3 linked regions of the Homo sapiens genome follow. The protein of the gene in region 2 purifies or fractionates together with the protein of the main gene of each other region. This does not show direct contact. Each region holds a gene or a part of one and is shown on either strand. Other genes may lie near its edges. The genes, in order: BCKDHB, PPM1K and BCKDHA.

The links.
Region 1: the proteins of PPM1K (region 2) and BCKDHB purify together in Homo sapiens (affinity purification with mass spectrometry; 5 studies listed by BioGRID and IntAct, with this or other methods). This does not show direct contact.
Region 3: the proteins of PPM1K (region 2) and BCKDHA purify together in Homo sapiens (affinity purification with mass spectrometry; 6 studies listed by BioGRID and IntAct, with this or other methods). This does not show direct contact.

The regions. Positions count from the first base shown.
Region 1 is NC_000006.12:80,169,033-80,172,686, forward strand, and holds part of BCKDHB (2-oxoisovalerate dehydrogenase subunit beta, mitochondrial isoform 1 precursor), read left to right. Parts: coding exon of another isoform or gene 1-25; exon of another isoform or gene 26-1,184; intron 1,185-2,249; coding exon 2,250-2,358; intron 2,359-3,654. UniProt on the Homo sapiens protein: Together with BCKDHA forms the heterotetrameric E1 subunit of the mitochondrial branched-chain alpha-ketoacid dehydrogenase (BCKD) complex.
Region 2 is NC_000004.12:88,270,986-88,274,639, reverse strand, and holds part of PPM1K (protein phosphatase Mn(2+)-dependent 1K), read left to right. Parts: intron 1-185; coding exon of another isoform or gene 186-214; intron 215-3,352; coding exon of another isoform or gene 3,353-3,545; intron 3,546-3,654. UniProt on the Homo sapiens protein: Serine/threonine-protein phosphatase component of macronutrients metabolism.
Region 3 is NC_000019.10:41,404,191-41,407,844, reverse strand, and holds part of BCKDHA (2-oxoisovalerate dehydrogenase subunit alpha, mitochondrial isoform 1 precursor), read right to left. Parts: intron 1-3,654. UniProt on the Homo sapiens protein: Together with BCKDHB forms the heterotetrameric E1 subunit of the mitochondrial branched-chain alpha-ketoacid dehydrogenase (BCKD) complex.

The sequences.
Region 1 (3,654 bases), on a different chromosome or scaffold from region 2:
ATGTTCATTTATGTACTTTATTTGATTTCTATTTGATGTTTCCATTTTGATTCATTCTATTTAATATCTATGCTTATCTAGAGGAAAGAAAACAAACAGGATTCTTGGAATTTATGTGAACTTAACTGTATTTAAGAAGGGGAGGTTAGCAGTTCTTTTAAGTATGCTATCCAATGCCCAGTTTTACAGCAAGTTCTTTTTGAAGGAGGACTGGTTTTATAAACTCTGGCATTGATTAATTTTATAGACTTCAAAGAATAAGACCAAGAACATAGTTGGTTTACCTCCCCTCTCTTTCAAAGCTTTATATTTCTTTCTAACTTAAGTCTTTCTCACTTAACTGATGATGGGGTGATTTTAATAAATCTTTTGTTTAGTCTGTATTTACCTCAAAGTCACAGGGATAACACTTTTGCTTTTAATGTATTTCTTACTTGTTAAAAAGACTAAGAGAAGACTGTTACCTAGATTTTTTTTTTCTGTTTAAAGTTAGGTAATACTTGCTCAACCAATTAATTTTGAAGCATCTCCTTTTTATAACCTGTCTTTCACAAAAGCTTAGGTCTTTTGATGGTAAAAATATTTTGAGTTTTTTATGTCTTAATTTTTTGTATTATCTTTTCTGTTTCTGTTTACTGAATAAGCTTTTCAGGGGATCATTGTAGAAACCCATAGATGTGTGAATCCAGAGATGTATATTTGTTTTTTGACCACATGAATTGATTGTGAGCATGTGTCTATGTTTTATTCTTTTTTTCTTATTTGTTTTTTCTACCAGATCAAAGTTATAAGCTTATCTTAGTTGAGTAGATGTTGCCTGATTTTTGAATGTGAGCTAGAAGTTGTAGACTGGGAAAGAAGCCATGTGCGAGGCAAGTTATTTTTGTGCTTGAGCTAAACATTAATTCACATTTAATATTTATAACATTATATTGTTTTTAAGAACAGATCTTTTCTGTCTGTCCCCTGCCTTCTCTTTTCCTCCTTCATTTTCTTTCTTCCTCTTCCTTTTTCCTTTTTTTTTCAGCTGAAATGAAAATATACTTAAAGTACAAAAGGCTAATATGAAGAAAGCAGATGAAGGGAACTTAAAAAGTAGGAACATAAGATAAAGACATTGTGTGATATGGTTATTAATGTGTTCAGAGGTCCAGAACAGAAAATAAAATTTTTTATACAGAAAATAGTGACATTTTTGCTGCTCTTTTATTTTTAAAATAAAACCCTTCAATAAAAATGGCATAAAAATGGCTTTGAAAGCCAAATATAGTTTGCCTCAGGGAATCTTAAGTCTTTGTGGTAAGTTCAGGTTTATTTTAATAACTCTTCCTATATAATATTTGTCTTTAAACAATTATAATCATTTAAAATTAGACAAAGTTTGTGATTTAAGTCAACATTAGATAGAAGTTAAGAGCTTGAGCTTTGGTATCAGTGGGAATTGGGTGAGACTCTTTGATCAAGCAAGTCGTGTGACCTTAGGCAAGCTACTTGTTCTCTCTAAACCTCAGTGTCTATTTCTAAAATGAGGAACATTATAATAGCTACCTAGTGGGGTTGCTATGAACAGATGAATTAATTCACAGAGTGCTTGGCCAAGTTTACACGTGTACTTCCTACTGTCATTATCATCTTCCTTGTCATCACCCTCATTCTCGAGAAGGTCCTGGAGCCCTTTCCTGTGAGTGGAAGTGTGGACTATCCACACTTTTGTTTTTGCTTTGCTATATAACTGGACACTATGGTGCCTGGACTGTAAAACTCAGTGGACTAATTTTTCACTTATGAAATGAAGACCATATTTTTTTTCATGGGAAAAGAAGATTTTGACATGTTAAAACTGGAGAAGAGAGTTGCATGTACTTTGAAAGTAGAAACAGATTATTAGTAGAAGAGATTTCTTCATAGATAAACACAGGTAGATATTAACAATATTACAGTTTTTTGCTTTGATGAATGATCTTTGCATATTCTTTTTATTTTTTTTATATAGGCAAGTTTAGCTTCTTAAGAGTAGTATCTTAGTTAACAGAACATGGTAGACATCTGATAAATATCTGTTGAATAAGAGGCATTTTTATTTTTATATAATATGTAAACTTAATAAGTGATAATTAGGCTTAAAATAAATAGCCAATATCTATTTTTAATTAGTAACAATTGATTATTTAAATATCAGCCCTTCTTAGCAGCGAGTTTACTGGGATATATTTTTACTAAAATTGTCTTAAAAAAATCTGTTTTTGCAGGTGGTTATACCCAGAAGCCCTTTCCAGGCCAAAGGACTTCTTTTGTCATGCATAGAGGATAAAAATCCTTGTATATTTTTTGAACCTAAAATACTTTACAGGGCAGCAGGTAAAGATTTTCTTTATTTTATATTTGTGAATATCTTTATATACTTTGTTTTTTATAGCTCTAAAAGTTATATCTTTTTTTTCTATATGGTTGATTTATATTTTCCTTGTAGAAAGAATCTTGATTTTTTTGGTATTTAGTTTGTCCTCAGGTGTAAATTTTATGTTTGGGAAAAATTCATCTAGCCATTTTATATTTTGATTGTGGAAACAAAGAGGAAATCTGAAGTGGTAGCAACAATAAAGGGACTATGTTTAACCACATAGTAGGTGCTTAGTAAATATGGATTGAACAGAAAAGTAAATGAGCTCATTTTACTAAATAGTATATGTTTCCTTTTAACTAAAGTGACCATAAAGGTCTTCCTTCATTTAAATCAGGATACCTTTGACTGTGAAGGAGGTGCTGTTAACAATTATGCTGTGCTGTCAGGTCTATGCTGGGATGACTGTGTAAAGCAAACTAAGGTGTTTGGTCATCCTCTTTTTAGCTCAAAATCCTGATTTTATAAACATACATCTGTGACTGCTAATTTCTTCACTGTAATGGAAATTTTAAATAGCAAATGATTTTTTTCTGTCTAAAGCATTTTAATCACTCCTGGAAGCTTCTTCCTCACTCTTCACAATGGATCCATTCTCCCTATGCCAAAAACAGCCACTTTCTGATTGCCATCAGATTAGGTGTACATGTGTTTGGGCTTCATATAAATCCATGCACACTGCATATGTTCTTTTGTGTTTGCTTTCTTTTACTCAACCTAATGCTTTTGAGATTCATTCATGTTTTTGCTTGTATCAGTAGTTTATTCACTTTTCTTTGCTGAGTAGTAGTCCATTGTATGAATATCTGTTGTTCATTTCTATTACAATAATATTACAATTTTGTACAATATTAGAACATTTCTACTTAGTAAGGAACATGGTCATTATATTGGATGAATATTCACTGTTCATTTCTATTACAATAATATCTTACAACTGTACAATATTAGAACATTACTACTAAATAATGAACATTGTCATTACATCATACGAATATTCATTGTTCATTGATAGTATTATTACTACTAAGTAATAATAATTTTTCTTGTTATTCTTATTTTTCTAAGTATTCTAGTTACTAAGGAAAGTAGCTTGGCCCTCTTCATCAAGGTAATTTTTTGTGAATAGTATTAGCATATTGCAACTATGTTTCTGGAGCCAGCCTGCCAATAAATGCTTCTTGGCTGTGGGGAAAAGAACACCCAAAAATCTGAGGCGTGTACAGTATTGTTTAATAAGTAGCATTTCATTG
Region 2 (3,654 bases):
AATATTCTTTTCGGCCTATGTATATAGATAGGACCAGTGCCAGTGAAACAAAATTTTGTAGTAAGTGCAGTTTACCCTCTCCAGTTTCTTTCATCTTTTCTCTTTTAGTATTAACCCCTTTCCCCTCTTCTTGAACCCTTCCTGTGAGGTGAAGGACTGTGGCTTATTCATTTTTGAATCTCCAGTGTGCAGCACCCTGCATAGAACCTGGCAGGTACTCAATAATTATTTGGATTGAACTGAGATCTCCACGCTGACTCTTTCTCACTGAAGTTACTGTAATTTTTTCTTTGATTATCATATAGCTGATTTAATCAAATTATTATAAAATGTTTGCATTTTAATGAGCTGTCACTCCTGGGTGGATTTGAATTTTAGTTAGCAGACACCTGAAAAAGGCTTAAACCATAGAAGTGAATTACTAATGGTGAGATTTTAGGTATAAAAGAGAGGCGTGCCGCTCAGTCCTACTGAAGCAGCATTGCTCGTCTGGCGTAATACTTGAGTTTCATTGTCTCATACCAAGGAAATCAAGGACGAGGACACACAAGGAGTGAGGTTAGGAGTGGAGACTTAATAGGTGAAAGAAAGAGAAAAGCTCTCTCCTGCAAAAAGAGGGGTCCCAAACAGCTTTCTAGTCCATGGTGAAGTGCAGGAGGCTTTATGGATGAACTTGAGGAGGCAGTGTCTGATTTACATAGGGCATGAAAGATTGGTTGGACCAGATGTGCCATTTGCATAGCACACGAAAAACTGATTAGGCCTAGGTGTGCAATTTGCAGAGCATTCAAGAATCTGGCCACCCCCACCCTAATCTTTTATTATGCAGATGGGTTCTCTACCTGGCCAGCGCCATGTTGCCCATTTCTTTACACATGGTGACAAAGAAAAGGGAAGATGGAACATATTGAACATGCTTGGCCCCAGGTAGCCCTTTTCTTTTTCTTTTTTTTTTTTTTTGAGACAGTTTTGCTCTAGTCTCCCAGGCTAGAGTGCAATGGTGCAATTTCAGCTCACTGCAACCTCCACCTCCCAGGTTCAAGTGATTCCCCTGCCTCAGCCTCCCAAGTACCTGGGATTATAGGCGCCTGCCACCATGCCTACCTAATTTTTGTATTTTTAGTAGAGGCGGGGTTTTGCCATGTTGGTCAGGCTGGTCTCTAACTCCCGACCTTGGGTGATCTGTCCGCCTTGGCCTCCCAAAGTGCTGGGATTACAGGCGTGAGCCATTGTGCCCAGCCCAGGTAGTACTTTTCTATTGGCACAGCTGCTGGCATTCACCTGTGCAAGCTTCCAGCTTGCTTATTTATGTTTGCAGCTCAATTTTTCAGGTTGCTCTTTGTTAGAAAAGAAATGGTTTGGAGGCTGCTTTTTGTTAAAAGGGAAGCCTTGCCACGGACTCCTTTACCCTCACTATGTGCCTACATAATTTATTTCTAGCTCCTGTATCAATACCATATTAACTTTCTTAAGTGAAATTAAAACATTCTTATCTCCTCTCAACTTCAGTTCCAAAGCTGTTACAGCTACATAAAGAACTTCAAATTATCTTACTAACATTTAAAATATTTACTGTTGAATGGCATTGCTGTTGCCTGAGCAAGTTCACACTCAAGTTACACTTAGTGAGAGCTCTTTTCTGCCCGGCATGTGTGAGTTCAGCGTGGGCAAGAGACTTTTATGTGCATTCAGTCCTTTCAGAAATGAGACGATGCCAACCACAGACGCAGCATGTCCTGGATGACTGATCTGTAAAATATAATAAAAGCTTATTGTTTGAGTAGAAAATAAAATAAAATAATTTACTGTTGTAGCTGGGGATATTTTGAAAAGAATAAAATCAAAATGCCACTTATCAAGAAATGGCAAGAACAAGATTCCCTTGCCCTTAAGAAATTGTCAGCTATTTTTATTGCTTTTTTGTTAATGCATTTTCAACCTGTCCTTAGTTATCAGTAGCAAATTTCATCACCATCTTTTAATTTTTTTATTCAATTTATACCAGTAATGTCTACTTTTACAATTAATAAAAGCAGCCAGTAAATCCGGATGATATCCCACCAGTCCGTTGTTTATAAAGAGATAGCCACTTAGAACAAACTAGATGGTAGAAAATTAGGTTATAATTCTATATTTCCTATAAGCTCTTCAGAGTGTTTCCAGATTGCTTAAACTTTGAAAGCAACAAAGCTCCGAAAGGGACAAATGGAACAAAAAGAGAAGACTTGCTCAGACATTCAGAGTGGGGGACATTGATGGCATTATGAGTCTCACCAGAAACTTTTATGTTCTTCATATCCTGTGACCTCTTTATGGAAGAATTAAACTACAAAAGAACCAGGGCTGTAAACACAGCATTTTTGAATCCCCTATGCCGGGACAGCCAAAAGAAAAAAAAAGAGAGCATTGATGAGATGTTCTTACCGTGCTGCTACTGCTTCAGCTCATTACTTTGATTTTGGTGTTCATGAGTCATGAGTCTAGAACACCCATTTTTAATAAATATTGAAACTGTATTGGTTTATACATAGTATTATTTACACAATTGAGTAATTACTAGGGGTCATTATACTTTGAAAAGTATAGCTTTTGCTCTTTATGTTGGCATTCACAATCTTGATCATTTTTCTTTTGATGTGTCGGCCTGCAACACTGGGGGAAAGAGAGAGCTGCAGAAATACCCATTTTGTGAATTATACAAAATTATAAACATGCGTCTCGCTAGCCTTTATTTAAGCAATGAATTTAAATTAATCATTCTACTCAAAAATGCCTTATAGGTACTAAGTCTCTGCATTAAGCACCATTAACAAATGCATTACTCTATGTATCTTGTATAGCGGGTGCTTTGATTCCTTCTTGATATATATTTAAGTCCCAGTAATTTGGTGGTATACTGTAGTTTACATCCTGCTTGTCAGATACAAATTCTTCCATGCTGTAACTGTAGATTTACCTTTCTATTCTTGAGACAATTCTGATATTGCTACCAAACAAATTTACAGTGCATTTTTTGTAACTCAGTAAAGGTAGTGATTTACTGTGTTTAAGACCAATTATTTCAGTGAATGTGTATATGCGTGAGTGTTTTTGTGAGTGTGTTAAATGTAGGTCTGTGTCACCATTTATGTGTCTTGGTACAGATACTTTTTTATATAGTTTTTTCAACCTTAGAAACCACAAAATTAAGAAAGAAGTGTTACCCTGTGATGAAAAAATAGGCTCAACTACAAAATACCATCAACTGGAACAAACTGAGTTTTGGAATAATTGATTTGGCATCTCCTGGAATATTATATAATTTGCTAGTTAAATTTTCACCAAAATAAAAAACCCTTCCCTTATTTTGCAGCTCTTTCTCTGCTCTCCCCTGTGTTGCAGGTTTGTAATGTTTGAGCACAATTCCTGGGTGAAATTCGTATTTGCCTCTGTGCGTGTTATTTGTGGCAGAGAACTGTGCCTGGTCAGCAGCTCTAGACCTGGAGCCCGTGGACACTATATGCGGGGCTTCAGTGGAAAGAGAGATCTGCTTAATTTTGTCCCAGGTGAAGGAGTCCAGCGGTTCCTATCCTGGACTACGGGAAGGTTCCCACATCTCTTTGTCCCATTAGTTGAGATGACTTGCAGTAGAAATTGTCCAGTGAGTGTTAAGAA
Region 3 (3,654 bases), on a different chromosome or scaffold from region 2:
TTCCCACTACTCCCGGGATTCCTCCGAGGTCAGTAATGGTGGCTTCACTTCCCACAGATGTTAAAGAATGGCAGGGTTTGCCACAAGCTGGATCTCACACATGCGTGCTCAAATGTGTCCCTCCGTCTTCCTTTAACTGCAGTGAACAAGCTGTCCACAGTTCTAGCGGGGTAGCATGTTCAGTGTGTGTATTTATTTGCATTTGTAGTCGTGAGGAAATTACACTCCCAATGGCAGGGCAGATTCAGGCCTGGCAATGTCACTGCAGGCCTCCCCTTGTGAGGAGGAAACAGCCGGCCTCTTGCAGCACAGTGCTTCCCCCTTCTGAGTACCCAGCATAGCCAGACACTGACCTAGAAGATTGCTTTGTTTCGTGTCTGTCTCCCACACACACCACAATCCCAGGAAGGCAGAGACAGCGTCCAGGTTGCCTTCACAGCAGGCACTCAAGAGGGAATTCCTGAGTGAATGCATGAATGGGCTGTTAAGTTCCCTGGCTCTGGAGTTCAACTGCCCTGGGTTCTAATTTCTTAGCTCATTGTGTGGCTCTCTGCAAAAACACTTCACCTCTCTGAATTTCCTTATCTGTAAGAAGGCTGCAGAACACCACGTGAAAAGTTGCTAAGTTAACTCACACCAGGGGTTCAGCACCGATCTGGGACGTATTACATACTCAAAACTTGGTAAGAGAGAGAAAAACAAAATCTAGGAAGGTGAGAAGTGGGAGAAAGGGAAGTGACTACACTGTATGAGATAGGGAAAAGAGGAGCTGGGAAGAACTAACTGCACCTTAAAGTGGATACTAAAATCAAACTGTGGCGATGTGCAGCGGCTCATGCCTGTAATCCCAGTACTTTGGGAGGCTGAGGTGGGAGGATCACTTAAGGCCAGTGGTTCGAGATCAGCCTAGGCAACATAGTGAGTCCAGCCTAGGCAAAACCCTCGTCTCTGAAAAATTTTTAAATTAGCCAGGAAGGCTGGGCGTGGTGGCTCACGCCTGTAATCCCAGCACTTTGGGAGTCCGAGGCAGGCAGATCACCTGAGGTCAGGAGTTCAAGACCAGCCTGGCCAACATAGTGAAACCCTGTCTCTACTAAAAATACAAAAAACAGCCGTGCATGATGGTAGGTGCCTGTAATCCCAGCTACTTGGGAGGCTGAGGCAGGAGAATGGCTTGAACCTGGGAGGCGGATGTTGCAGTGAGCCAAGATGGCACCATTGCACTCCAGCCTGGGTGACAAGAGTGAGACTCTATCTAAAAAAAAAAAAAAAAATTAGCTGGGAATGGTGGCATTTACATGTAGTCCAGATACTGGAGTTGCGGGAGGCTGAGGTGAGAGGATGGCTTGAGCCCAGGAGGTCAAGGCTGCAGTGAGCCATGACTGCACCATTGCACTCCAGCCTGGGCAACAAAGTGATACCCTGTCTCAAAGAACAATAAAACCAAACTGTGGCCCCAGCAGATACTCCAGAGAGGGAGACTGAGGCACAGGGGAGACGGCATGCTGATGGAAGAGGACCGAAGGCTGAAGTCTTCAGACGGGCACTAAGAGGGGAGGCCAGAGTCTGAGAACAAACCACTGTGTCAGGGCAGGACTGTCAGCCTCTAGAGGCTGGACAGCTATCTTCACGGCACCCCAGTGTGCTCCACATACTGCAGCTGGGTCTCGGCTGTACCCTCCTCCCCTCTTTGCTGGGCTGGTGGAGATAATGGTAGTCCCCAGCCCCAGGGTTGCTGCCCCAATTCAGTGAGCTATGCAAAGGGCTCCACGCTGTGCCTGGTCCTGAGGAAATGCTCCATAATGGGAGTGGGTGGCCAAATGCCTGCAGAGGAAGGATGCGACTCCACCCATCTGTTCCTCTAGTTTTTGGAAGGGGGTGGGGGAGTCTGTCCCGGTGGCCAGTGATTTACAATGGCAGAGGCTGCACAGATTTACACAAAGCTTCATGCCACGTCCTCTCCCACCATGCAGGAAAGCACAACCTGCCCGCTCTGGATGGTCTGGTCTGCCCAGGAAGTACTGGGGTGACCCTGGTGGAGTCACTTGAAGGCACCATGGCTAAGCGCATGGACTCTAACTGAGCAGACCGCTGCCTGATTATGTGACTTAAACTCCCTGAGCCAAGTGCAGTGGCAGACGCCTGTAATTCTAGCTACTCTGGAGGCTGAGGCAAGAGGATCACTTGAGTCCAGGAGTTCGAGGCCAGCCTGGGAAACATAGTGAGACCTCGTCTCTACAAAAATAAATATATAAATAAAATTTAAGGCCAGGTGTGGTGGTTCACACTTGTAATACCAGCACTTTGGGAGGCCAAGGAGGGAGGATCGCTTGAGCCCAGGAGTTCAAGACCAGCCTGGATAACATGGCAAGACCCCATCCCTACAAAAAATTAGCTGGGCATGGTGGTGCACACCTGTACTCCCCAACTACTTGAGGGGCTGAGGTGGGAGGATCGCTGGAGCCCAAGAGGCTGCAGTGAGCCAAGATCACACCACTGCACTCCAGCCTGGGTGACAAAGTAAGACCTGTCTCAAGGAAAAAAAAAAGAAAAAATTTTTAAAGAAAAACTCCCTGAGCCTCAGTTTCCTCCTGTGTACACCGAGGGTGGTATAAGTACTTATCTCAGGGGTTGTCATGAGGATTAACCGAGTTGACCTGTGTGGATTGCTCAGCCCAGTGCCTGGCACATAATGTTTCATAAACACAAGTAGTGAGTAAGTATTTCTCATGATTGTTCTTGTTAAACAGATACTGAACATTTGCTCCAAATCATGCCCTGAACTGAAGGCTAGAGACAGGGAGGGATGAATGACAAACACTGAACACACAAGTTATAATCAAGACAGGTGATCTTACTCACATTGCTTCACCTGACTAGCCTAAAAAAACAAAAAAGTGTCAAGTTGACAGGTAAGCCAAATGAAAATACAGAAATAATATGGCTGGGTGCGGTGGCTCATGCCTGTAATCCCAGCAGATTTGGGAGGCTGAGGCAGGTGAATCACTTAAGGTCAGGAGTTCATGACCAGCCTGTCAGGCTGATCACGATGGTGAAACCCCATCTCTACTAAAAATACAAAAATTAGCCAGGCGTGGTGGCACGCACCTATAGTCCCAGCTACTCAGGAGGCTGAGGCAGGAGAATCGCTTGAACCTGGGAGGTGGAGGTTGCAGTGAGCCAAGATCGCACCACTGCACTCCAGCCTGGGTGACAGAGTGAGACTCCATCTCAAATAAATTAATAAATAAAATTAGGCTGGGCGTGGTGGCTCACGCCTGTAATCCCAGCACTTTGGGAGACCGAGGCGGGCGGATCATGAGGTCGGGAGATCGAGACCATCCTGGCTAATAAGGTGAAACCCTATCTCTACTAAAAATACAAAAAATTAGCCGGGCGTGGTGGCGGGCGCCTGTAGTCCCAGCTACTCGGGAGGCTGAGGCAGGAGAATGGCGTCAACCTGGGAGGCAGAGCTTGCAGTGAGCCGAGATTGTGCCACTGCACTCCAGCCTGGGTGACAGAGCAAGACTACATCTCAAAAAAATAAATAAATAAATAAAATTTTGGCCGGGCACAGTGGCTTATGCTTATAATCTCAATACTTTGGGAGGCCAGGGCAGGCAGTTCACTCGAAGCCAGGAGTTCAAGACCAGC